Homo sapiens: one gene and its partners. The protein of the gene in region 4 purifies or fractionates together with the protein of the main gene of each other region. This does not show direct contact. Each region holds a gene or a part of one and is shown on either strand. Other genes may lie near its edges. The genes, in order: TMEM68, TMEM161B, TMEM87A, TSPAN8, SLC30A7, USP34 and CPT1A.

Evidence for each region.
Region 1: the proteins of TSPAN8 (region 4) and TMEM68 purify together in Homo sapiens (affinity purification with mass spectrometry; one large-scale study listed by BioGRID and IntAct). This does not show direct contact.
Region 2: the proteins of TSPAN8 (region 4) and TMEM161B purify together in Homo sapiens (affinity purification with mass spectrometry; one large-scale study listed by BioGRID and IntAct). This does not show direct contact.
Region 3: the proteins of TSPAN8 (region 4) and TMEM87A purify together in Homo sapiens (affinity purification with mass spectrometry; one large-scale study listed by BioGRID and IntAct). This does not show direct contact.
Region 5: the proteins of TSPAN8 (region 4) and SLC30A7 purify together in Homo sapiens (affinity purification with mass spectrometry; one large-scale study listed by BioGRID and IntAct). This does not show direct contact.
Region 6: the proteins of TSPAN8 (region 4) and USP34 purify together in Homo sapiens (affinity purification with mass spectrometry; one large-scale study listed by BioGRID and IntAct). This does not show direct contact.
Region 7: the proteins of TSPAN8 (region 4) and CPT1A purify together in Homo sapiens (affinity purification with mass spectrometry; one large-scale study listed by BioGRID and IntAct). This does not show direct contact.

Annotation. Positions count from the first base shown.
Region 1 is NC_000008.11:55,749,379-55,752,878, reverse strand, and holds part of TMEM68 (DGAT1/2-independent enzyme synthesizing storage lipids), read left to right. Parts: intron 1-1,721; coding exon 1,722-1,915; intron 1,916-3,500. UniProt on the Homo sapiens protein: Catalytic subunit of the alternative triglyceride biosynthesis pathway, which mediates formation of triacylglycerol from diacylglycerol and membrane phospholipids.
Region 2 is NC_000005.10:88,266,046-88,270,068, forward strand, and holds the start of TMEM161B (transmembrane protein 161B), read right to left. Parts: upstream 2,801-4,023; 5' UTR 2,679-2,800; coding exon 2,676-2,678; intron 1-2,675. UniProt on the Homo sapiens protein: Essential for maintaining normal cardiac rhythm in the developing heart and for neonatal survival.
Region 3 is NC_000015.10:42,263,434-42,266,933, reverse strand, and holds part of TMEM87A (transmembrane protein 87A isoform 1 precursor), read left to right. Parts: intron 1-2,730; coding exon 2,731-2,844; intron 2,845-3,500. UniProt on the Homo sapiens protein: Potential monoatomic ion channel gated by mechanical force, implicated in normal touch sensitivity through the generation of mechanically activated currents.
Region 4 is NC_000012.12:71,148,000-71,151,499, forward strand, and holds part of TSPAN8 (tetraspanin-8), read right to left. Parts: intron 1-3,500. UniProt on the Homo sapiens protein: Structural component of specialized membrane microdomains known as tetraspanin-enriched microdomains (TERMs), which act as platforms for receptor clustering and signaling.
Region 5 is NC_000001.11:100,976,090-100,979,173, reverse strand, and holds part of SLC30A7 (zinc transporter 7), read right to left. Parts: 3' UTR 1-3,084. UniProt on the Homo sapiens protein: Zinc ion transporter mediating zinc entry from the cytosol into the lumen of organelles along the secretory pathway.
Region 6 is NC_000002.12:61,188,088-61,191,587, reverse strand, and holds part of USP34 (ubiquitin carboxyl-terminal hydrolase 34), read left to right. Parts: intron 1-929; coding exon 930-1,070; intron 1,071-1,173; coding exon 1,174-1,317; intron 1,318-2,518; coding exon 2,519-2,678; exon of another isoform or gene 2,679-2,878; coding exon 2,879-3,486; 3' UTR 3,487-3,500. UniProt on the Homo sapiens protein: Ubiquitin hydrolase that can remove conjugated ubiquitin from AXIN1 and AXIN2, thereby acting as a regulator of Wnt signaling pathway.
Region 7 is NC_000011.10:68,839,117-68,843,135, forward strand, and holds the start of CPT1A (carnitine O-palmitoyltransferase 1, liver isoform), read right to left. Parts: upstream 2,801-4,019; 5' UTR 2,659-2,800; intron 1,302-2,658; exon of another isoform or gene 436-1,301; intron 1-435. UniProt on the Homo sapiens protein: Catalyzes the transfer of the acyl group of long-chain fatty acid-CoA conjugates onto carnitine, an essential step for the mitochondrial uptake of long-chain fatty acids and their subsequent beta-oxidation in the mitochondrion.

The DNA of each region.
Region 1 (3,500 bases), on a different chromosome or scaffold from region 4:
GTGGCACAGTGCCTGGAGTCTCAGCTACTTGGGAGGCTGAGTGAGAGGATCGCTTGAGCCCAGTAGAGCAAGGCCGTAGTGAGCTACTATTGTGCCCCTGCATTCCAGCCTGGGTGACAGAGCAAGGCCCTGTTTCCAAAAAAAAAAAAAAAAAAAAGGGATCCTATATTTTATCCTATTATGTATGAATCCTTCCCTGTTCATTCATTCATTATGAGAATGCATCTAGTTGAATCAGTGAACATTTAATATAATGTGGGGTGACAATTATTTTCTTTTCTTTTACTTTTTTTGAGACAGTCTTGCTCTGTTGCCCAGGTTGGAGTGCAGTGGCTTGATCTTTGCTCACTGCAACCTCCGCCTCACGGGTTAAAGCAATTCTCCCTGCCTCAGCCTCCTGAGTAGCTGGGATTACAAGCGTGCGCCACCATGCCCGGCTAATTTTTGTATTTTTAGTAGAGATGGGGTTTTGCCATGTTGGCCAGGCTGGTCTCAAACTCCTGACCTCAGGTGGTCTGCCCGCTCATCTTCCCAAAGTGCTGGGATTACAGGTGTGAACCACCACACCCGGTCTGACAATTATTTTAATCTTAATGCTATTTATAAACTTGCCTCAGATCTTTAATGAGAAGTTTGGTTGGTCTGCATAGTGTTTTTTGTTTTTTTTCTTTGAGACAGAGTCTTGCTCTGTTGCCCAGGCTGCAGTGCAGTGACACAATTTTGGCTCACTGCAACCTCCCCCTCCTGAGTTGAAGCCATTCTCCTGCCCCAGCCTCCTGAGTAGCTGGATTACAGGCACGTGCCACCATGCCAGGCTGATTTTTGTATTTTTAGTAGAGGCAGGGTTTCACCACATTGGCCAGGCTGGTCTTGAACTCCTGACCGCAAGTGATCCACCTGCCTCTTTCTCCCAAAGTGCTGGTATTACAGGCGTGAGCCACCGTGCCTGACCAGTCTGCGTAGTTTTTAACATCAAATGCATCGCTATATTTCCCATTCTCAGGGAATAATGTATACTAACATCAGTCCTCAGAAGTTCCAGTATGGGATTTGATTAAAATATTTAATTACTAACAGGATTATTTCTTTCATCCATAAACAGTTGTAATTTGAAAAGCTGTATAATATTAAGACTTGGAATTAGCTGCTCTTGAGTCAAGCACTCTCACTTTATTAAAATCTCTTAATGATGTTTGCTATTTTAAAAATTTAATTATAGAATTAGCATTATCTAACTTTTAATTTAAATAGATTTGATCATGGTCTTGCCAGTTTTGGAAGAGCTAAGCGTAGTTTGATTCACATTCTCCTGAGTGATTCTCTTTTTTATAGGGTTAATGGAAGATTAGATTTCTGATTGCTGATGGGATATCATTTCTGAATCCCATTAGAATCCTATCTCTGGAATCTCTGCCCTGCCACTTCTTAGATGTGTGACTTTGAGCAAGCTATTATTCTGTAAGCCCAAGTTTTCTCATTTGTAAAGTGGGGAGAAGAATACCTGTTTGTCAAGATTGTTGTGAGTTTTACTTAAGAATTTGAGCCAGAGAAGCTTAATATCAAGCTTAAGTTAACCTTTAGAGTTTTTGTTGATTTTAACAAGTAAAAAAGTTTACTGATTTAAGTATAAATAGTACACTATGTAGTTTGTGAAGATTTTTCTTTTGAAGAATTAAACAAGAAATACTTATGTTGTAACTTCATACTCATGTTTCTTACAGGGTTTAGTTTATTACTGGATGTGTTTTGTGCTCTACATGGACCAAGAGAAAAATGTGTTGAAATTCTGAGGAGTGGCCACTTGTTAGCTATCTCACCAGGTGGAGTTCGAGAAGCCCTAATTAGTGATGAAACTTATAACATCGTATGGGGTCATCGCAGAGGCTTTGCTCAGGTTGCAATTGATGCAAAAGTGGTGAGTTATATAAAATTAATTATTGAAGTAAAGCTTAGTCAAATTTAAAATAAATGGTTAAGTAATGAGCCAAATTGTATAAGAACTTAGACACTTTCGCTGCAATACCTTAAAAATTAGTATGTAGGCCGAGTGTGGTAGCTCACGCCTGTAATCTCAGCACTTTGGGAGGCCGAGGTGGATGTATCATGAGGTCAGGAGTTTGAGACCAGCCTGGCCAACATGATGAAACCCCATCTGTACTAAAAATACAAAAATTAGCCAGGCATGGTGGTGCATGCCTGTAATCCCAGCTACTCGGGAGGCTGAGGGAGGAGAATTGCTTGAACCCAGGAGGTAGTGGTTGCAGTGAGCTGAGATCGCACCACTGCACTCCAGCCTGGGTGACAGAGTGAGACTGTCTCAGAAAAAAAAAAAAAAAAGACTGGAGAATTTGAATGTCATTTTGTTCTTTTACTTTGCCTTCGGAAAGTATTTCTCAGCCTTTTGGTCTCCATATTGTACTTTAGCCTATGAAACACTTATCTATTACCTATGGAAAGTTTCTGCTTCGTTTTCTGTTTATTTTAATTCTGATTGTCAGAAAAAGAAATTACGTTTGATAGAGTATTGTTCTTTTTCCAGGCCAGTTAGAGAATATTGTCAGTAACTTAGTTTTTTAGTTGTATAGAAAATGAATTATGGCACATTTTACTTATTTCCCAGTCTTAAGCACTGACATAGAAAACAAAAACCTAGACTATATGAATAATATAGAATACAAAAGGATATATGCAGTTATACAAAAATTAAGAATAATCAATATAATGTATATGAAAACAATGATAAAAACTAAAATCCTAATCAAAGATGGTTCAACTTTCAAGTTTATATTTTGAAAGAATTGTTTTTTCAAAAGTTTAAGATAAAGATGACAAAAATAGATTTAAAATCACATAAATATGCCATGGGATTCCAATTCCTCATCCTTAAGTTTACATTTTCGGCAACATATTGCTTGGAAGAAGGACTGAAAGAGATAAATGATGCAGAGAAAATAACTCTTTCTAATCCTCGAGTTTCCAGATAATTAATTTAAATAAACTAGATAATTTAATTGAGATTTTTATATAAAACTTTAGAAAGTTTAAGAAATACCTTTTTATAAGTTTAAAAACAAACAGAAATCTTATAAGTTTGATAAATATTGTGCCACCCCAACATCTCATAGCACTTTTAAACACTTTATCTTATACTCCTATTCAGTAAGGAGGTGATGCATATAATTATTCCAATGTTGCAGATGAGGAGACTCAGGCACAGAGAGATGGAGGGATGGAAGGGATCTGGTCATTCAGCAAGGCAGCAGTAGAGCAGAGCACACAGTTCAGAACTCGAGGCAACCGGTACTGTTGCCATTCCTGACTACATTGCACAGTGAGTCTGCTGACGTCTAAGACTGAAGGGGCTTCCCAGATACGTGAGGGAAGTCTTTCAGTAATATATATGTGTATATATGTATAGTTGTAAGTGGCACAAGTATCCCCTCTGGAAAATCCCTTAATAGGCCTCACAAAATTATAAGCTGTGAACAAAATTTAAGGCT
Region 2 (4,023 bases), on a different chromosome or scaffold from region 4:
AGACTTGTCTTCACAACAACTTGAAAGCATAAAAATTAAGCGTGAGTTCAGTATTTTCAGTCTGGATCATAATCCTATTCTCCTTCATTCATAATACAAAAACCTTGTTATAGGCACAGGTATCTATTGAGTATCGGTATACATAATGTATGAGAGAATGAGAGCACAGAATTAGTTTATCATTGATTAAAACAAGAATTAAATCAAAACATTCCAAGAGTTGTGTTCCATTCTGGAGCAGTATTTAAGACAGTAGTGAAAGACTTGGCCAAATATACAAAGATTCCAAGTACTATCTATGTGACTTATGAAAAAAATGAAAAAGAGAATGATAAAAGAAATCAAACTTAAGCCAAAATGGCATGGAAACAAAACAGTGGAAATCAGACTAACTTTTATTTAATCTGAAACATGTAACTATCCTCAAAAATGTTGAGTAGTCATGGAATCATAAATTTAAGAAGGTGCTTTAATACCCATCAAGTCCCACTTCTCTTACCCAGGAGGAATTTGGAACTCTTATCAAAATTGAGTGACTTTTCCAAATCCATATAACTAACAATGGGCAGAATCTGGGTCCTCTGGGGTCAATACTAATGTTCTTTTCATAATATCATTAGGCCCCAGCAATGCAAAACAAGTTCTGATTTCAACAAGCTGAATCCTCAATAAATTCAGCCCATGTTCACTTCATTTAATGGTTAAACTCTTCCCTTTGAAAAATTCCAAGCATTAACCACACTTGCATATACAGACATTATCAATTTCATAGCTGGGAAAGATAAAACTCAGCCAAGATAATTAGCTCAGAAATATAAGCACTTCCAGAAGGAAAAGAGCCAACTAGTTAGTTCCAAAATGACATTCAGAAAAACAGCATAAGATTACATTAGTTCCAAACATTAACCATCTCTTTTGAACCGACAGGATAAGCAGGATTCTACTTCTAGTATTCCAAAACACTGAGAACAAGTTCATGTTCAGCTTTTCTGTGACTATGATGAACTTAAGTATTTTAATTATACTTTACCTTCAACTTTTCAGACCAAAAAGTCAAAAATTAATCTTAAATTTAAAAAATGAAAATATGAGTTTTAGTCCAGACTGCCAAACTACTGTTACTTTAGAAAAATCACTGTCAATTTCTAGACCCCAGATTCTTTCTTCTGTAAAAATGGGGATGGAAGAGTGATTACTAGGCTTTGGTTTCTCCCAGTTCTGTTTTCCCTATCCTTGTCTAATTTCACTGATACAAAAGAAAAACAACTTTCTTAATACAAACCATATTATTCACTGAGGCTTAAAAAAAAAAACTTTAAAGAGATAGGTTATCTGGTAAAGTGCACCAGGAACTACATTATTTTGAAGGTCTTTGTTCTACATTCAGCTAAGTTTCTAAAAGTCATTCAAAAGCCAATCACCACACACATTAACTGAATGTTGGCAATATTTGGCCCTGAAAATATAAGACAAACTGAAGCTAAATTCCAGGACAGAAGCCTCTGCAAGTGAGGGTTTGAAATCTTGTATACGGTGAAGAAACTGACAATAATGAACTTCACCAGAGCCCCGTGATCTTGAAAAACAGCAAAGGTTAAGAAACCCCTTGCCCCCGTTTGTGTTCTGAGAAATTGGCTTACTGCAAAGAATCATCTTTCCTGTAGAACTTAGATAAGACTAAGGGTTGATCCATACCCCCCTACCCCTTGTTTACCTATAACAAGGCCATAACTAGACCCTTCTAATTCCCATCCTTTGCTTCGTAAATGACTTGCTGAAGTACCTGTCCCACAGATCAATCGGAACAAAATACTTATTAACCAAACTTTAAGATTCTCTTCTCTCGGGTACCTGAATTTTGTCCTTCCCTCAGTCTGAAACAACATATACAAACCTCTCCTAACAGCTCCTCCTCAGAATACATGGGCTCAGGGTAAAACATTATCTGGTTACTGCCGGATCATACCCATATTTTCATCCCAATTCCTGACATCTTATTTACCCCTACCAACAAAAGACAAACCCTTTCTGCCTAACCTTTAAGGTGCATGCAAATCTTACGGTCATTCTCCCTACTGCAACAGTTCCTTCAACCTTCCTCCACACCCCTGCAATATTCCTTTCGAATAAAGTCTGTCCTTACTAAACTCGGGTTTTTTATTTGACACCCTTTTCAATTATGAAATGGCTAAGTGTAAAGAATAAGGGGACTACCGTTTCTTTAAATGACAGGTGTTGATCTTATACAAGGAGACCCGTTGTGTCCACCTGGAGAGGCTAAAAGCATTTCTAAGATCTGAAGTTCTTGGCCACTGTTCCGCGGATGGAGAAGGGGGCGCAGAAGAGGTGACTGACCCGGCAAGGTCAACTCTGGGATCACCTGGCGCCACAGGCCATACACAGTAAATGGGCCATGAACAGGCAGGCTACCCAGTCCATACTCCCTGACAGATACGCCCCTGCCTCCGGCCCGCTAGTCTCCCAGACAGGTAGGCGTAATGCTGCTTCCTCAGGGGCTCAGACACCCTGAGATAGGTGGTGGGTCCTACCCAGCAGCTCATCCCAACGTCTCAACTCCATTCTGAGCAGAGCACCTGATGGCTCTTTTCACAGTACTGACCTCCCCGCCCTTTTCGCCCCACCGTTGTCACTCCTGCCCTCACAGAAGAACTCACCATGGCGCCTAGGATAGGTCGTGGACCAGACACCCTGGAGTTGCCGGGGCAGTCCCAAACCTCTTACCTCCCGGTCCTTGAGCCGAGAGACTCTCAAACAGCGAAAGAGAGGGTCTTCCGGCTCTGCCGGAAGTTGTGCGCGCGCGGGACAGGAAGTTCCTCCCTTCTCCAGAGCGCCGTCGACCCCACGCCACGCAGAGGTGAAGATACGCAGGACGTCCTCTAAAGCAACTTCCGTGGGTGCCAGGTTGTGGGCTGGGGGCGGTGCTGACCTTGAGAGAGCGGAGGAGGCGCAGGCGCAGCACAGGTACGTGGGCGGGCGGATCGTGGTGGCTGCGCTTGCGAGGACCCTGAGGTAGATTGGGTGGTTTCAACAGGAACGCATCCACTGTCTGAGAGGTGACGGAGGCACACGTTGGTGTGGGGAGCGGGAGGGGAGAGGGAGGGGGGCGGGTGGGGGGCGGGAGGGGGCCAGGGGTGGGAGTGAGGGTGCGCGATGGGAGTCGACTCCAGACCCAGGTGATTTAGAGAGAGTAAAGACCACCTTTGGCCGTCATTTTGTCTCAGCTTAACTGACGCCCTCTTGTTACCCTCTAGTTTTCCTGACTCGGTCCCTTATTAGCATATCCTCATTTCCACAGACCTGTCCGTCTGTTGCTTCTGTTCCCTGCCTTAGTGGGTACCGTAGCTCTACCCTCCTTCCGGGCAATGGAATCTCATAGTGAGAAGTTTCTTCACTATTCACAGGTGGCAATTGAAGCCGGAAGAACATCTACCAAGAGCAGAGAACCCAGGAAGAAAATTCTGCCTCTTTAATACGTTCCAATATGGACGTTTTCCATATAGATACCTATCTATATAGATAGATGCTCTGGGATCTGACGGTCCTGGACACCTGTATGGCTGTGTGCTGTGGTCTTTGCCTAGCCTGCGGTTCACTTTTGCTCTGGCCACCACCTCCCCTCATGTACAAACCGCGTCTCTGCTCTGCCAGTCTTGGCCCCCGTCAGGCAGCGGTTCACTCCCTCACCAGGGAAGTCTAGATAGATAGATATAGATAGATATCGATCGATAGATATAGATATATATATAGATAGATAGATAGGTAGATATATGGATAGATATAGATATTTGGATAGATATGTAGACGTCTATCTATAAATATATCGATATATCGGGGTTCTCAGCCATCCCAAAGAAGCTTGCACAGGGCCAGTTGCTTTATGTCAGGAAAAGGGACACAGACTGAGTGTATGAGGGTTTTTTTTTTCTATAGATGTATAGATATTTATATCAGATGCAAATAAGTGAAACTCTCATACAACTTTTAATTTTGTGTTTTTTCCAA
Region 3 (3,500 bases), on a different chromosome or scaffold from region 4:
GTAATGGTAGTTTTTCAGTCATTCTTTCAAGTAAATATGGTGTTTCGTGGAAAAAATGATTAGTTTAACTCACAAGTCAAAGCAATTGCAGAGTGCTTTATCTCAAGACAATAATTTATTGTATTTTGCATGCTTTCCATTTTGTCACCTAGATTATTTAAAAAGTCAGGTACTCAAAAGGTCCAGATTTAATAACATTAATAATTTTTACTGCTTTATCTAGGATATTCTTACATAAAAGTGGCATTTTTAAAAACTGCCAGTTTGTGACTATGAAGAATATGACTGCTAGTAGAATTAAATGCCACTGCCTTAGTTCCTGATAAGGGGCAACAGTTTTACCCACTATTGCTTTTGTAATATCGTTACAAGTCAAATAGCATACTATTATTATTATGAAAATAGTTTTTTTTTTTTTGAGATGGAGTCTCACTCTGTCACCCAGGCTGGAGTGCAGTGGCGCGATCTCAGCTCACCACAACCTCTGCCTCCTGGGTTCAAGTGATTGTCCAGCCTCAGCCTCCCAAGTAGCTGGGATTACAGGTGTCTGCCACCACACCCGGCTAATTTTTGTATTTTTAGTAAAGATGGGGTTTTGCCATGTTGGCCAGGCTGGTCTCAAACTCCTGACCTCAGGTGATCCACCTGCCTCAGTCTCCCAAAGTGCTGGGATTACAGGCGTGAGCCATTGTGCCCAGCCATGAAAATAGTTTTGTCTATGGTTCAACGGCCACACTTTTGAGAATTGCCATAATCTAGAATACTTGAGCGTTGAAAATATATTGCTCAAAGAATAAAGCTGGAAGCATCACATTACCTGACTTCAAACTGTACTACAGGGCTACAGTAACCAAAACAGACACAAAGACCAATGAAACAGAGAAGACAGCCCAGAAATAAGGCCGCACACCTACAACCATCTGATATTTAACAAAGCTGACAAAAAACAAGCAATGGGGAAAGGACTCCCTATTTAGTAGATAGTGTTGCGGTAGCGTGCTGGCCATATGCAGATTGAAACTGGACCCCTTCCTCACACCATATTCAAAAATCAACTCAAGATAGATTAAAGACTTAAATGTAAAACCCAAAACTATAAAAACCCTGGAAGACAACCTAGGCAATACCATTCTGGACATGGGAAGTGGCAAAGATTTCATGATGAAGATGCCAAAAGCAATTGCGCCAAAAGCAATTGCAACAAAAGCAAAAATTGACAAATGGGATCTAATTAAGTTTAAGAGCTTCTGCACAGCAAAAGAAACTATCAATAGAGTAGACAGCCTACAGAATGGGAGAAAATATTTGCAAACTATGCATCCAACAAAGGTCTAATATCCAGCCTCTATAAGGAACTTAAACAAATTTATATGCAAAAAACAACCCCATAGAAAAGTGGGTAAAGGACATGAACAGACACTTTTCAAAAGAAGATATACAGCCAACAAGCATATGAAAAAAAAAAAGCTCAGTATCGTTGATTATTAGAGAAATGCAAATCAAAACCACAATGAGATACCATCTCACATCAGAATGGCTATTATGAGAAAGTCAAAGGATAATAGATGCTGGCAAGGTTGTGGAGAAAAGGGAATGCTTATACATTGTTAGTGGGAGTGTAAATTAGTTCAACCACTGTGGAAAGCACTGTGGCAATTCCTCAAAGAGCTAAAAACAGAATTACCATTTGACCCAGCAATCCCATTACTGGGTATATATCCAAAGTAATATAAATCATTCTACCGTAAAGACATATGCACATATATGTTCACTGCAGCACTGTTTACAATAGCAAAGACATGGAATCAACCTAAATGCCCATCAATGGTAAACTGGATAAATGTGGTACATATGCGGCCATAAAAAAGAATGTGATACATATGCAACCATAAAAAAGAATGAGATCATTTCCTTTGCAAGAACACAGAAGGAGCTGGAGGCCATTAACCTTAGCAAACTAACACAGGAACAGAAAGCGAAATACCACGTTTTCACTTATAAGTGGGAGCTGAATGATGAGAACACATGATCACAAAGAGGGGAACGGCAGACACTGGGCCTACTTGAGGGTGGAGGGTGGGAGGAGGGAGAGGATCAGAAAAAATAACTCTTGAGTACTAGGCAGTACCTGGGTGATGAAATAATCTGTAAAACAGTTCCCTGTGAGTTCAGTTTACCTATATAACAAAGTTGCGTATGTATACCGGAACCTAAAATAAAAGTTAAAAAAAAAATATATATATATATATACACACACATATATATAGTTCTGAGTTGAATTTTTCAGACCTTTTCCATTCTGTTTCTATCTCTCAATTTGCATTTTTAAGAAGATTATCCTAGTTCTGTGCTTGCAACAATTTTCTGCTCTATCTTAGCTTATGAGCATGAATATTTTTTTGTTGATGTTGTTAATTTGGTCAAGTAAATCTTTTAAGTATATTTTAATGTGACAAAACCCTCTACACTCTGGCAGTTTCCCAGTCTACTCAGAATTGTTAGTAGAACTATGCCTTGTGAGCCAAAGACTAGAGTCTAATAGTCCTTGAGTCTGATAGTGTTTGATTCTTAGATATTTTTATATAGAGCCTTTATCTGATGCTGTTCATTTTTAAAATAGCAAACTCAAAATTGTATCTGTACTGCAGGTGAACTGTTTGTTGTGCTGTGCTCTTAGTATCTTATTTTTTGGAAGGTGAGTTAACTACTCTGTATTATCTCTTTTTCCAGGCAGAAGAAGTAGAGTTGTATTTGGAAAAACTTAAGGAAAAAAGAGGCTTGTCTGGGAAATATCAAACATCATCAAAATTGTTCCAGAACTGCAGTGAACTCTTTAAAACACAGGTAATCTTTGAAAGTGATTGGAGATAAATAGAATAGGCAAAAATTGGAATGTATATATTTTTGGCTGTATCCACTTCCGACTTCTCAAGTATTTCTTTTGGCAGAAGTAAGTGGAAGCATGTTCTGATAGGTACATAGTCAGCCACTTATACATACTCATCAAAGAGAGGTTGTACTTTGCTTTGTGTGTAAAAAGCAAACCCCCATTTTTTTATTGTGGTAAAATATACACTACATAAAATTTACCATTTTAACCATTTCTAAGTGTATAATACAGTGGCATTAAATATATTCACATTGCTGTGCAGCCATCGACCCATCTCCAGTACTTTTTTTTTCCCCAAGGCAGATTCTTGCTCTGTCCGCCAGGCTGGAGTGCAGTGGCACAATCTCGGCTCACTGCAGTCTCCATCACCCGGATCTAAGCAATTCTTTCACCTCAGCCTCCCAAGTGGCTAGGGCTACAGATTCACACCATTACGCCTGGCTAATTTTTTTTGTATTTTCTGTAGAGACAGGATTTCACCATGTTAGCCAGGCTGGTCTTGAACTCTTGACCTGAAGTGATCCACCCACCTTGGCCTCCCAAAATGCTGGGATTACAGGTGTGAGCCACCGGGCTGAGCCCCATCTCTAGTACTTTTATCATCCCAAAC
Region 4 (3,500 bases):
TATTTAGTGTAATCAGTCTTGGGCTTTAGCGCAGAGTAAATGTTACTAAATTGCTATTTTCTATTACATCTCTTTCCAAATATCCTTCCAATCTACATTTGAGATAATAAAAAATATAACTATTTAGACATGTGACTTCTTTATTTCCAGACCTAAAATGGTTAGCCATTTAACCATGATTTTCCCATGCTTCAATTATCCATTTTTACTTATACCTTAATCATTTTGGATATGTTTCAGTAAATTTTACAGTGTGAATACCTGAAGATCTCTTTCTCTCTTATTCATTTGTGAAAGGCTCTGAATACTCAGCAGACATTGTTTCATTGTCTTCTGACTTTCAGGGTTACAATAGGAGAAGAATATCACCAGCCTTATTTTCGTTCATGCATTATTTGCTTGTTTTCTTTTTTGTCAGTTGTATCTAGACATTTGTAAGATGTTTATTTATCTTTTAACTAAGTTAGTAGTTTTCTTAACATTTATTTAGGCATAGATGTCTTCTTTCACTGGGGTAGATCAGGCACTTGCCATCTGCATACAGGTATGTTTTCAGCTCCACAAAATTTCCATATATTAATTTGATTATTATTTGTGTTCCATTTATTTTGTCCTCTTTTTCAGGAGTACAGCTTATTTTGGGTTTCCATTCTCTGTTGTCTGTATCTATTATCTTCTTTCACAATATTCTGATTTCTTATTTGATTTTCCTGTGGGAAAGCTTATCAGTTTGGGATTCTATGTCACTGTCTTTATTTAATGTGATCTCTACAGTGAAGTTTAATTCTGCTATTATGTTTGTAGTTTACTTGCAGTCCTTACATATTTTATCCATTTCCCTTTTTATCTCATCCCGTTGTTTTCCAATAAATTTTATTTTCTCTTATGGCCTCCATTCACTGTTTCATGAGAGGTTACTTTCTAGCATCACATTGTGGATACCAATTTCTACATACATTTTTTCAGGATTCTAGAATATTTATTTCAGGGATGTGTGCTTGTCCTCTAAGTCTTCAGGGTGGCAATATCTTTCACTTGTTCAACAGTATTTTTTATTAGGTCTTATGCTAAATTTCCTTGAAAAAGATGAGACCAATTCTGATTTAGAGTTCATTCAGAGTAGAATGTGCTGAGGCAGGTGGATCACCTAAGGTCAGGAGTTCAAGACCAGTTTGGCCAACATGGTGAAACCTTGTCTCTACTAAAAATACCAAAAAAATTAGCCGAGTGTGGTGGCACGTGCCTGTAATCCCAGCTACTCAGGAGGCTGAGGCAGGAGAATTGCTTGAACCCGGCAGGTGGAGGTTGCAGTGAGCTAAGATCACGCCATTGCACTCCAGCCTGGGCAACAAGAGCAAAACTCTTGTCTCAAAAAAAAAAAAAAAAAGAGTAGAATGTGCATTCCCTTTACAAGCATGGCCTGATGTAGTTCTGATCTACTAAGCCTCATGCGATATTGGATTTTCTGATGCTGTAAACCAGCAGAGTAAATTAAAATCTTCAACTTTTAGCAGACTCTGCAATCATGGTTTTTAAAAAATCTTCAGCCCCATATTGTTGCAGGAAGTCAGGGACCCCAAACAGAGGGACTGGCTGGAGCCGCGGCAGCGGAACATAAATTGTGAAGATTTCATGGACATTTATCACTTCCTAAATAATACTCTTATAATTTCTTACACCTGTCTTACTTTAATCTCTTAATCCTGTTATCTTCGTAAGCTGAGGATGTACGTCACCTCAGGACCCTGTGATAATTGTGTTAACTGTATAAATTGATTGTAAAACATGTGCGTTTGAACAATATGAAATCAGTGCACCTTGCAAAAGAACAAAATAACAGTGATTTTAGGGAACAAGGGAAGACAACCATAAGGTCTGACTGCCTGTGGGGTCGAGCAAAAAGAGCCATATTTTTCTTCTTGCAGAGAGCCTATAAACGGACATGCAAGTAGGGAAGATATTGCTAAATTCTTTTCCTAGAAAGGAATATTGATATTAATACTATGGGGAAAGAATTGCATTCCTGCAGGGAGGTCTATAAACAGCTTCTCCGGGAGTGTCTGTCTTATGTGGTTGAGATAAGGACTGAAATACGCCCTGGTCTCCTGCAGTACCCTCAGGCTTACTAGGATTGGGAAACTCCACCCTGGTAAATTTGGGGTCAGACCGGTTCTCTGCTTTCAAACCCTGTTTTCTGTTGTTTAAGATGTTTATCAAGACAACACATGCACCGCTGAACACAGACCCTTATCAGTAATTCTGCTTTTGCCCTTTGCCTTATGATCTTTGCTTTTGCCCTTTGCCTTGTGATCTTTTTTGGACCCTTATCAGGAGTTTCTGATTTCGTCCTTGTCCTGTTTCCTCAGAAGCATGTGATCTTTGTTCTCCTTTTTGCCCTTTGAAGTATGTGATCTTGTGACCTACTCCCTGTTCTTGTACCCCTTCCCCTTTTGAAATCCTTAATAAAACTTGCTGGCTTTATGGCTCAGGTGGGCATCACGGTCCTACTGATATGTAATGTCACCCCCGGCAGCCCAGCTGTAAAATTCTTCTCTTTGTACTGTTTCTCTTTATTTCTCAGCCAGCTGACACTTATGGAAAATAGAACCTACGTTGAAATACTGGGGGCACGTTCCCCCAATACTATATTAATGGTGTTTATTGTATTGAGTGTTGACATGGTTTAGCTGTGTCCTCACCCAAATTTCATCTTGAATTGTATCTCCCATGGGACCCAGTGGGAGATAACTGAATCATGCGGGTGGTTCCCCCATACTGTTCTTGTGGTAGTGAATAATTCTCATGAGATCTGATGGTTTTATAAGGAGAAACCCCTTTCACTTGGCTCCCACTCTCTCTTGCCTGCCACCATGTAAGATGGGACTTTCATCTTCCACCATGATTGTGAGGCCTCCCCAGCCACATAGAACTGTGAGTCTATTAAACCTCTTTTTATTTATAAATTACCAGTCTCAGGTATGTCTTTATCAGCAGTGTGAAAACAGACTGATACAAGTGTTAAGTGTACACTCAATGTGTCTCCATGATTGCATTCACGTGCATCTTATTTTTTTTTTTTTTTGAGATGGAGTCTCACTCTATCACCCAGGCTGGAGTGCAGTGGCGCGATCTTGGCTCACTACAAGCTCCGCCTCCCGGGTTCATGCCATTCTCCTGCCTCAGCCTCCTGAGTAGCTAGGACTACAGGTGTCAGCCACCACGCCCAGCTAATTTTTTGTATTTTTAGTAGAGATGGGGTTTCACCGTGTTAGCCGGGATGGTCTCGATCTCCTGACCTTGTGATCCACCCACCTTGGCCTCCCAAAGTGCTGGGATTACAGGCATGAGCCACCGCGCCTGGTCTCATGTGCATCTTCTAACAAGCACTCAATATAACTGCTGCAAATTCTAATTTTTAAATAACTCTAAATTTAGGGAAAATAAATCAACCACATTGTTTTCCTTACACAAATAGGGCCTCAGTAACCACTAAAAGCCTA
Region 5 (3,084 bases), on a different chromosome or scaffold from region 4:
AGTAATTAGTTGTAGGAATTCTGGTTAAGACTTCAACATTTTACCTTACTTAAAAGATTTGCTTTATGCAACATTTAATGCCCAGTTTTGCATGGCTCTAAAAATCTTTAAAATGCAAAAGCTTTTCCAGTGACTGGAAGCCAACACGACAAGAATGAAATGGTATGACCTGTGAATTAGCCTGGTTTATAAAAAAATACCAGTTCAGAGACCATAAACAAAATAAAGAAACTAAGCAATCCTTAAATTGGATTTAGCCTTGGGCAATTAGCAGAAAAATTCACTCATAAAAGGATCCATTTTACAGATATTGTTTTTTAAAATGTCAGGAACTGGTTTTATAAGAGTAAAAAAGTTAAAATTAATTGCATCTTCCATAAAGAATATGATGGAAATAATTATATACGAAAAATGAGACAATAAAAGTCCATTTATAAAGTGCCTTAATGTACCAAAAAAGGAGGTCAGATGTCCTTTATTTACAAATCATATTTAATCCCATTTACAGAAAGGCAAATATTACACTGGAGAGGCAGCATAATAGAGTATAAAGAACTCTCAACTTCGAGTCAGAAGATCTGAATCTTTTTGGCTTTGCCACTAATTTTCTCTGTGACTTTGAGCAAATGAGAGTTTTTCTGGGCTTCGGTTTTCTCATCTGTAAAATGAGAGGTAGAACTACACTGCTTCTAAAGCCAGTCCTTGCTTAGATGTAAAATTCTGTGTTAAGCAATGTAAATATGGTTCTTAAGTTTTGGAATTACATAACAGGGTTCTACCATATTAATAATCTCTGTAAAAACTGATTATTCCATAATAGGTAGGTAAAAACATTATAGAACTGTGATCAAATACATTTTGAGTTCATGATTTGGCTGCTGTACAAAGGTGCAAAAAAGGCATAGCATTTTGGTTACTGATATACACGTGTAGGTTTTCAGGAATGCTGACAAATTCCAGATATAAGGGAAATGACAGCACAAGGAACACTGACCTACAGATAAACTAGATACTGTCCTTCACAAAGATGCATGGGGAGTTAGCAAACTGAGGAAGCTGTGGATATGTTAAGCCCTTCATCTTGAGGAATATAATCTATGTTTAAAAAACCAAAGCTAGTGGCTGAGCACGGTGGCTCACACCTGTAGTCTCAGCACTTTGGGAGGCCGAGGCAGGAGGATGACCTGAGGTCAGGAGTCCAAGACCACCCTGGCCAACGTGGTGAAACCCTGTCTCTGCTAAAAACACAAAAATTAGCCGGGCGTGGTGGCGTGCACCTGTAATTCCAGTTACTCAGGGAGCTGAGACAGGAGAATCACTTGAACCCGGGAGGTGGAGGTTGCAGTGAGCTGAGACTGCGCCACTACACTCCAGCCTGGGCGACAAGAGTGAAATTCCATCTAATACAAACAAACAAAAAAAACAAAAAAACAAAACCAAAGATAGTATAGCTATATTTCTGTTTGGGAAGGTTTACCAGGCAAGGTAAACTGTCCCTGAGCAATACAAATTTGTTGTCCAGAGAATATTTTGGCTTTTAAAATATTGGCAAAGTTACACTCAGATACGAGTTTTGTTTGGTTTTTTTAAGAGTTAGCTCAATATCAGGGACATTGTAAATTAATTTTATAACAATAATCTGGTAGTATTTCTCATTGGAATTATCTACTTTAGTAATATACATGTGCCAAGAACACTAATAAGACAAAATATTTCCTAAGAGTGACAAAAAGTTGCTTTTTCTCACTAATTTTTTACTGCTGCACACATAGGTATACTGGCATTTAATTAAAGCATAAATGTTAATGCCAACTTGCTAAATGATATGCGCTGGCAATGTAATGTAACAAATGCAAATTCACATCAGTCTAACACTGTATAAACATACTCATGCATTTGTGTACTGATAGTACAGTCAAATAAAATGATTCATATTTTGACAAAAACTAAACTTGGAATGGAGGGCTCTGTGAAAGGCAGACTTGGGTCTTCAAATATCTCCGTATGTGAAATATCAGTATTTATACATAATCAGTTTTTAAAGGCACACATCCAAAAGCTCCCTTCATCTAGATCTGTCATTTTCTCTATCTAATATGCCAAAACCCACAGAATATCCCAGAGTTCTCTCAGACTTGGTGGTGGTTGCAAACTTCTAATGACTACTTATATTTGTAGAAAAACCAGTACCATTATCAGGACACTTCCTTTTGAACTTTCCTGCTTAAAAGACCTCAACAGTTGTTTTAAGCACATACTACTGCAGTAAATCATAGATTTCAAACCACCTGGCAGTAAGCAAACATGTTTAGAAAATGCCACTTTGCCTGCGGAAAAGAGACTATTGATAGAGTTCACGGCAATCTGCAGCAGTTTAGAAAAGAATGAAGAAAGTGGTCTAGTTCTCCTAATAGAGAGTAGTTTATAGTTGTAGGTCAGAAATAGGGGAAAAGACACTCTAAAACTTAGAATCAACAGGGATTTCTGCCACATCACTAAAAAGTACTTATTGATCTACATTCTTAATAATTGTTTCCATCCTGCAGGGTTTTTTCTCCCACATTTACAATTTTTTTAAGTTAAAAGGGAATATGTATTGTAAAATGAAGTATAAGGGAAAATCAGATCATTTTCTCTTCATAAAACACAGAGAATACTTAAGTAGAGTGCTCAAGCACTTATCTCGAATTGCAATTTTATTTTTCAAATACGTAAGAACCTAGAAAATCAACTCAGCACTTACTTCCTAGATACCTGTGTTAGGAAAAGTTCTACATCACCACATTTCCTCTGTACCTTTAATAATTCAAACTCAATAAAATGCTGCTTTAGGATTCCTGAAAGCAATTGTATTTGTGCAAAGCCTAAACAGGAAAACAAAGTGGATGACTTGGCATTTGAAGAATGAAAAAGCCAAACAGCACTGTCACAACCATTTCTGCCTTCAGTCTCCAATGCCTTTTTCTTTCATTATAAAATCCATAGAAATGGCAAGGAAAGATATAGGAAAGTTTATCACAGATACAGTAGCTATTACAGAAATTTGGAATTCAGCAGATGTTTTAAGTCAAAATTTTCTGTGTA
Region 6 (3,500 bases), on a different chromosome or scaffold from region 4:
ATCCTGAGCAAGAAACAGAGGCAGAGGCACAGGCTGTGACTGGTAGACCAAGGCAGGTTTTTCCTAGTGTTAAGGATCTCAAGACCTGGGTCTTGGTCCTACTTGAATCCTAATTTCTTGACTGACCTTGAGTAATTTACTTATGACAGCTGCATACTTTAATAAGATATACACATATGCATATATATATATATATAATCTAAATTTTGTCCTATTTAAAAAATATATTGCTTTTTTCCATATAAATTATTAAAATGCACATTTAAATCTATGGAGTGTATCTGCTTAAAGACATACTACTTGTGTTTAAGAGCCATGACTATTTGAAAACAGGAAAACCAAATTTTAGTAAAATTTCCATATATTGAGACCACTGATTCTGTGTGAGATAATTAGGAAAGAAGATTTATTGTTTACCCTTGCAGTGTTTATGGGGGGAAAAGGTATTTACAGAATTACTGTTGCTAGCGAGAATATACAGTAAAGTTTAAAACATTTTGGAGAATTGATTTTGATTCTTAAAATGTGTCTTTTTGCAACATATGCTCTGGTTACCTATAAATACATTAATTTGGCCCTTGAAAACATTCACATCCTATTCTTTGTTAGCCTTATTTTTCCAGTCCTTGTTAACTCTCTCAGTGCTGGATAATAAACCTGCATTTCTTTTAAAACATTTGTTCAGTTTCGGCATCAGTGTCTTCCCCCAGCACTCCCTTAATCTAAATTAGTAACATTTTACTGTATGAAAAATAGTTGCTGTTAACTAAAAATTCAATAGGTGAGTTAGACATGGCTTTTCAAGTAGGATTTTCAGTGGCTTCAGATTCCATCATACACAAGTGTATGTTTTTTCTGTGTAAGTTTTTTCCGTGTAAGTTTTTTCCGTGCTCAACCGTAAGTGCTCAACCATCTTCTCCCCACTTTAGTCTGCTATGTCAAAAAACTGCATCAAGCTTTTGTGTGAAGATCCTGTTTTCGCAGAATATATTAAATGTATCCTAATGGATGAAAGAACTTTTTTAAACAACAACATTGTCTACACGTTCATGACACATTTCCTTCTAAAGGTACGTAGTACTTTGGAAACTCAGTGTGTCATTTCTAATTAGTTAATGCTTGTGGTTTCATTATGCTGGTCTTTTGGAGATTTTTTTAAATCTTCTTTTTCAGGTTCAAAGTCAAGTGTTTTCTGAAGCAAACTGTGCCAATTTGATCAGCACTCTTATTACAAACTTGATAAGCCAGTATCAGAACCTACAGTCTGATTTCTCCAACCGAGTTGAAATTTCCAAAGCAAGTGCTTCTTTAAATGGGGTAAGAACTATGCAGAGGCGGCGGCACACACTTTTAAACTGTCCTTCAGTTAACTGTGTGGCCTTCATATGATTTTACTCTCGTAACTTTAACTTACTGATTCAAACTCTTAAGCCATGTGCGACAAAAAAACAAGTTTTAAATACACGTTTACTATGCCTTGTATGTACACAGCACACTCTATCACCTTGGAAGCTACAAGCTGGTATCATTAAATGCTGAAAGGTAATAAAGGGAACATCTTAGTGGTCTTATCTCTAGTTGGGTATATTTTTGGAAACAATACTTGTGATGTTTCTATTACTGCCTATGGCTCCTATGTAACTGAAACAATTAATGATCTACTGATTTAAAAAAGGCAGTTAAATCTAGAGCATTAGTTGCCTTGTGCAGACTCCCATGACAGCCATGTCCTAGAATAATGGAACACTCTGGAAATGGGCTAGAATGTTGAGCAGCAGCCTCCCAAATCACAGTATGCATAAAAGCCAAAACAGATGACAGAGCTCAGTAAGGAAGACCTTACTATTTGTGACATCCATCAGAATTTTAACTTGAGAAACTGATTTCAAGGTTTGTTTTTAAAATTCTTATATTTCCTTTTCCATTTTTCAGAAAACACTATTTCAGGCTTTGGTCTGACTTACTGGTTCGTGGGCATAAAATAATGCTATTAGTGACTTTAAGAACTAATGAGGCTGGGCACGGTGGCTCATGCCTGCAATCCAAGCATTTTGGGAGGTCGAGGCCGGTGGATAACGAGGTCAGGAGATTGAGACCATCTCAATGGCCAACATGGTGAAACCCTGTCTCTACTAAAATAGAAAAAATTAAGCCAGGCGTGGTGGCGGGCGCCTGTAGTCCCAGCTACTTGGGAGGCTGAGGGAGGGGAATCGCTTGAACCCGGGTGGTGGAGGTTGCAGCGAGCCGAGATTACACCACTGCACTCCAGCCTTGCCAAAGAACAAGACTCCATCTCAAAAAAAACAAAAACAAAACAAAAAAAAAAAACAACTAATGAAATGCTGTAGTATCTTAACACTGGCTTTCTGGTTTTATCATTCTAAGAATCCCAGAGAAACCAGGGTATTCTTAGGAAAGAATGGATTCCTGGGAAAATAAACATCTGCAATTAACTGTAAACAACTGCATCAAAGTGTTGGCTTTAGAATTTGAAATGTTCCTATCTGGGTTTTTGTAGGACCTGAGGGCACTCGCTTTGCTCCTGTCAGTACACACTCCCAAACAGTTAAACCCAGCTCTAATTCCAACTCTGCAAGAGCTTTTAAGCAAATGCAGGACTTGTCTGCAACAGAGAAACTCACTCCAAGAGCAAGAAGCCAAAGAAAGAAAAACTAAAGGTTAGCTTTATGGACTACTATCATTACCTTTAGGGTGGGAGGAGGGAGTAATACACTTGGTGTAACTGGTTTAAGAGTTGTGTGTTCAGCTGAACCTCCTAAATATAAATGCTAGAAACAAAATTAACTTCCCACATCCCCCCCTAACGTGATCTTAATGACTTTCAGAGAAGTTTCCCTTTTGGCATGTGTTTTCACAGATGATGAAGGAGCAACTCCCATTAAAAGGCGGCGTGTTAGCAGTGATGAGGAGCACACTGTAGACAGCTGCATCAGTGACATGAAAACAGAAACCAGGGAGGTCCTGACCCCAACGAGCACTTCTGACAATGAGACCAGAGACTCCTCAATTATTGATCCAGGAACTGAGCAAGATCTTCCTTCCCCTGAAAATAGTTCTGTTAAAGAATACCGAATGGAAGTTCCATCTTCGTTTTCAGAAGACATGTCAAATATCAGGTCACAGCATGCAGAAGAACAGTCCAACAATGGTAGATATGACGATTGTAAAGAATTTAAAGACCTCCACTGTTCCAAGGATTCTACCCTAGCTGAGGAAGAATCTGAGTTCCCTTCTACTTCTATCTCTGCAGTTCTGTCTGACTTAGCTGACTTGAGAAGCTGTGATGGCCAAGCTTTGCCCTCCCAGGACCCTGAGGTTGCTTTATCTCTCAGTTGTGGCCATTCCAGAGGACTCTTTAGTCATATGCAGCAACATGACATTTTAGATACCCTGTGTAGGACCATTGAATCTACAATCCATGTCGTCACAAGGATATCTGGCAAAGGAAACCAAGCTGCTTCTTGACATTAGGTGTAGCA
Region 7 (4,019 bases), on a different chromosome or scaffold from region 4:
ATTCTGGCCTGCCAATAATAACCATGCAGAGTGACTAAACATTTTTTCCAACAAAGGAAAAAATGCAAACGATCAAAGTGCAGAAGCAGCCCTTGGCCCGCGCAGGCTCCGGTTTCCGCCTCCCGCCGCCGCTGCCACCGCCCCTGCGCCTTTAGATTTCGGGCAGCAAGTTTAATTGCTCGCTTGGAAAGCGTCCTCGGAAGGGCACCGCCAGCAACTGCGGCTTCGCGCCCCGCCCCTTCCCCCAAGCCCCGGGCGGCGTCACGTGACGGCTGAGAAAAGTAGGGGAAAGGTCAGCAGCAGCCCCGCCCCCAGGCTGGCGCGTCCCAGGCGCTCGGATCCTGTTCCACCCGCCGTGCCCACAGAGACCTTCCGGAGCGAGTTGGCGCGCGTCCCTGTGGCCACCCCAGCGACAGCGGGAGAAATGCAACGCACCTCTCCGTGGGAAGGTCGAGCCCTGCGGTGCCCAGCTGTGGGGACAGCTCGGTGCTCAGTGCTTCTGATGACAGATGCTGCATCCAACGAGCCAGAAACGCAGGCACCGCGCTCAAGAGCCCAGGGCGCGTCTAAAAGGGGCTCACTGTGAAGCCTCAGTGAAAACTGACGGTGTTTTTATGAATGAGCACTCGGGGCCAGGGTTGGGTAAGGGCAGGCCCTCGTTCCAGGGCTCCCCGGAGGCCCAACTTGACCGCTCGGTGACCACTGGTCCGGGGCCGGGGCCAAACGCAGCAGCCGCAGCAGTATCGGAAGGGACCCAGTTTAATTCTCTTCCCCTCCAGGGTAGGCGGCTTGTTTTTAGTACCAACTCGAAACGTTATTTTGGCCTGTGCATGATGCCAACTTCTGCCACTTTGAAACAAAGTGTGTGCACTCCCAAACCTGGCCCTTTTTATTGTTTGATTCCAACTGTTAAGATAGGGTTCAAGTGCAAGGTCTAGGCTAGCAATGCTTCACAGGAAGGAAACCAGTAATTTACATGCGAAAAGCAGTCCACAGGCTCTTGGTATTGAGGCAAAACCAATCCAAAGAACCAGCTGCGAATGCTGATAGTCCCCAGACCAACTGACAGCTGGATGTTCGCTGGCCTCAGCGGTGTGCATTCTCAGCGACACTTATGTCCTCAATTTATTGCTACGTTCACTCGGTCAGAGTCGCCTTAAAGAATTTGGAAAGGCCCGGGGGTGGGGGTGCTTCCTGGCATAAATAGAAGACCAGTGCTCAGCCATTTTTTATTCACTTGGTTTGTGGCTTAGAATGAAATAAACATGCTTGCATATCTGGAATGACCAGAAACCGGACACCTGTGGAAGAAAATGGTGTAACAAAATACAACGTTGCAAAAGGTAAAACCGATTTTCATTTTATTCGGTAACTTACAAAGTTACCAGCTTCCTACTAAAATCTGCCCTTAAATATTTTATAACACACGGAGCCGAGAGGAACCGAAAGCCTGTGCCGAGTTGGGAATATTAACTTTGTTATGTATTTAACCTGGTAGGTAGTTGGGATTTTTAACTCTCTGAGTTGTTTTCTTTTTTTAAAGTAAGATCGGCCCTCATCTTTGAGTTCTGCGGCTTTAACGAAAGCCAAGGGCGGATTTACATTATAAAGACGCTGACCCATGGCCTCTCCTGACAAACCGAAAGAAGCCGGCTGTTGGCTGGCCGCGGCGGTGGCTCCGAGAAGGGGCTGCCCCGCGTGGCCCTGACCGCACCGTCGGGCTCGCAGGCCAAGTTCGCCAGGGCACGGCCACGTGACACCCCCACCCTCCCGCGGCCCCGCCGCTCCCAGCCCGGCACGACCTTGGGCACATGCTCCGCGCCCACCCGCCCTTGACCCAGCGCTGCACGGGAGAGGCTGCGGGGCGCTCCCAAGCAGGCACTGGGCCCGGCACCCTCATCCTGCTCACGGCAGCGCTCGGACCGCGCCTGGAGTCCCTGCGCCAAGGGCGTGTCCCGACGGCTGCACCGCGAGGGCGGGCATGGGGAGGGGGACCGGGGAGACGGACGCTGGGATGGGGTCAGCGGCGCCCTGCCGAATCCCGAGGGCCGAGCACCCCTCCCTCAGCCGCACTGCACCTGCCCGTAGGTGACCAACCCACGGGCGGACCCCCAGACCCAATCCTCTCCAGAGCCAGGGTGGGATGGGCAGGGACAGGAGCCGGAGGCCCTACTGGCCCCGGGCGAAGGCATCCTGGAAAGCATCCAGAGCGTCCAGCATCCCTCCCGCGGCCACCCGCAGGCTGACCGACCCCTGGGCAGACCCTCAGACTCAATCCAGTCCAGGGCGGATTAAGGAGTGGGAGACAAGGGAGCCGGTGGCCCCGCTGGCCCCGGGCCGGAGGCGTCCAGCCAAGTCCGGAGGGCCGAGCATCCCTCCCGCGGCCGCACGGGACCCGCCTGCGGATGGACCGACCCCCGGTGGACCCTCAGACCCAATCCCCTGGGGAACATGGGGAGCCCCGGCCTCTTTCTGGGTTCAGGATCTCCACAACCCCGCCGTCCGGGGGGAATACCGGGGTTCCTCTCGGCGCCCCGGTTCCGGCGGCGTCCCCCACCCGGTCCGGTTCCCGGCAGCCCCGCGCCCCGCCCGTCCCCGGCCCCCGCAGCCCGCAGGGCCGCCCCGCCACCCTCCCCACCGCGGGCGACCGGGCCTCACCGAGTCAGCTACGGAGGTGCGGCAGCGGCAGCGGCAGCGGCGGCGGCGGCGGCGGCGGTGGAGTGAACGAGCGGCGAGCGGGAGCCGGGGAAGGAGGGCCGCGGGCGAGGCCGAGCGCACCCGACGCCGGCAGCAGCGGATTGGCTGAGGCGGGTCCGGCTGCGGCGCCTGCAGGCGGGTGACTCCCGGCGCGCGGAGGGCGGGCCCGGGGCCTCGGCGGGGCGGGGCGTCCGCGGGGCTAGGAGGGGAGGGAAACTGAGGCTCGAGCGGGTGCTCGCGTCCTCGACCTCTGCCGGAATGGGGTCTAGGACGAGATTCCTCACCCTCCGAGCCTCAGTTTCCTCATCCGTAAAACGAGCCATCTCGTGGAGGCCGTGCGCATAAAATCGCTTAGCTCCGTGCCTGGCTGATCCTCGCGACTTATCTATCGGCATTGCCCCGTGTAATGCTCCAGGCACCCCCTGATGGTATTCACCCCTGACTCTTTCATGCAGACAAGGGTCGCGGGCCAGGAAATAAGTTACCCCACATCACCGAGCTGAGAAGCAACCGATCCACAGGGAGTGGTGGGGCGCGCCTGTAATCCCAGCTACTCGGGAGGCGGGAAGTCGCTTGAAGCCAGGAGTTCGAGGCCAGCCTGGGCAACGTAGCGAGACCCCGTCTCTAAAAAAAAAAGCGCGGGGAAGTGATAGATCGGACATTGGGTCCAGATCTGATTCCACAGCCCATGCCCCAAATCAGACCTTATACCACGAGTGGCAGTCATCGCGATCCAGAGGCAGCGTGGCTCCTCCTCATCTAGCTAGGATAAAAATGCCTCACTTGGGGGGCTTTGGTGAGATTTACTAAAATAATTCTTCCAGCGTCAAGAACATAATAGGTGCTGGGAGAGGAGTAGCTGGAGGCCAGGGCAGAGCGACCGAGAGACCCTTGTGCTGGAGCTCGGGAGAGGGGCCGGGAGCGGGAACTGAACATCCACCGGTCCCAGGAGTCTAGGGCGAGCGCAGCTGCAGGGGACCCAGGGGGTTGAGGGGGAGGGAGAGGGGCCCCAAGCGTAACAGGAGGGCCAAGGGGGTCTTCCTGACCGGGAGCCACCCCTCCCCTATCTTTGCCCGCAATGCTTCCAGGCGCGAGCTGGCGGCTCTGCATACAGCAGGTGCTCCATAAATGCACCGATGTTATGAACAAAGACTCTTTTAAACCTCTTTTATGAACCCTGCTCTTTTTAAGTTCGACCACTTCTTCTAGTTATGAAAAAATCCATGTTTGCAACCATCCTTCTTTCTGTATCATTTAGTTGTTACCGCAGAAGAATTTAGAAGAGAAAATGAAAGTTCTCCTTTGATCCCGCCCCCCACCAC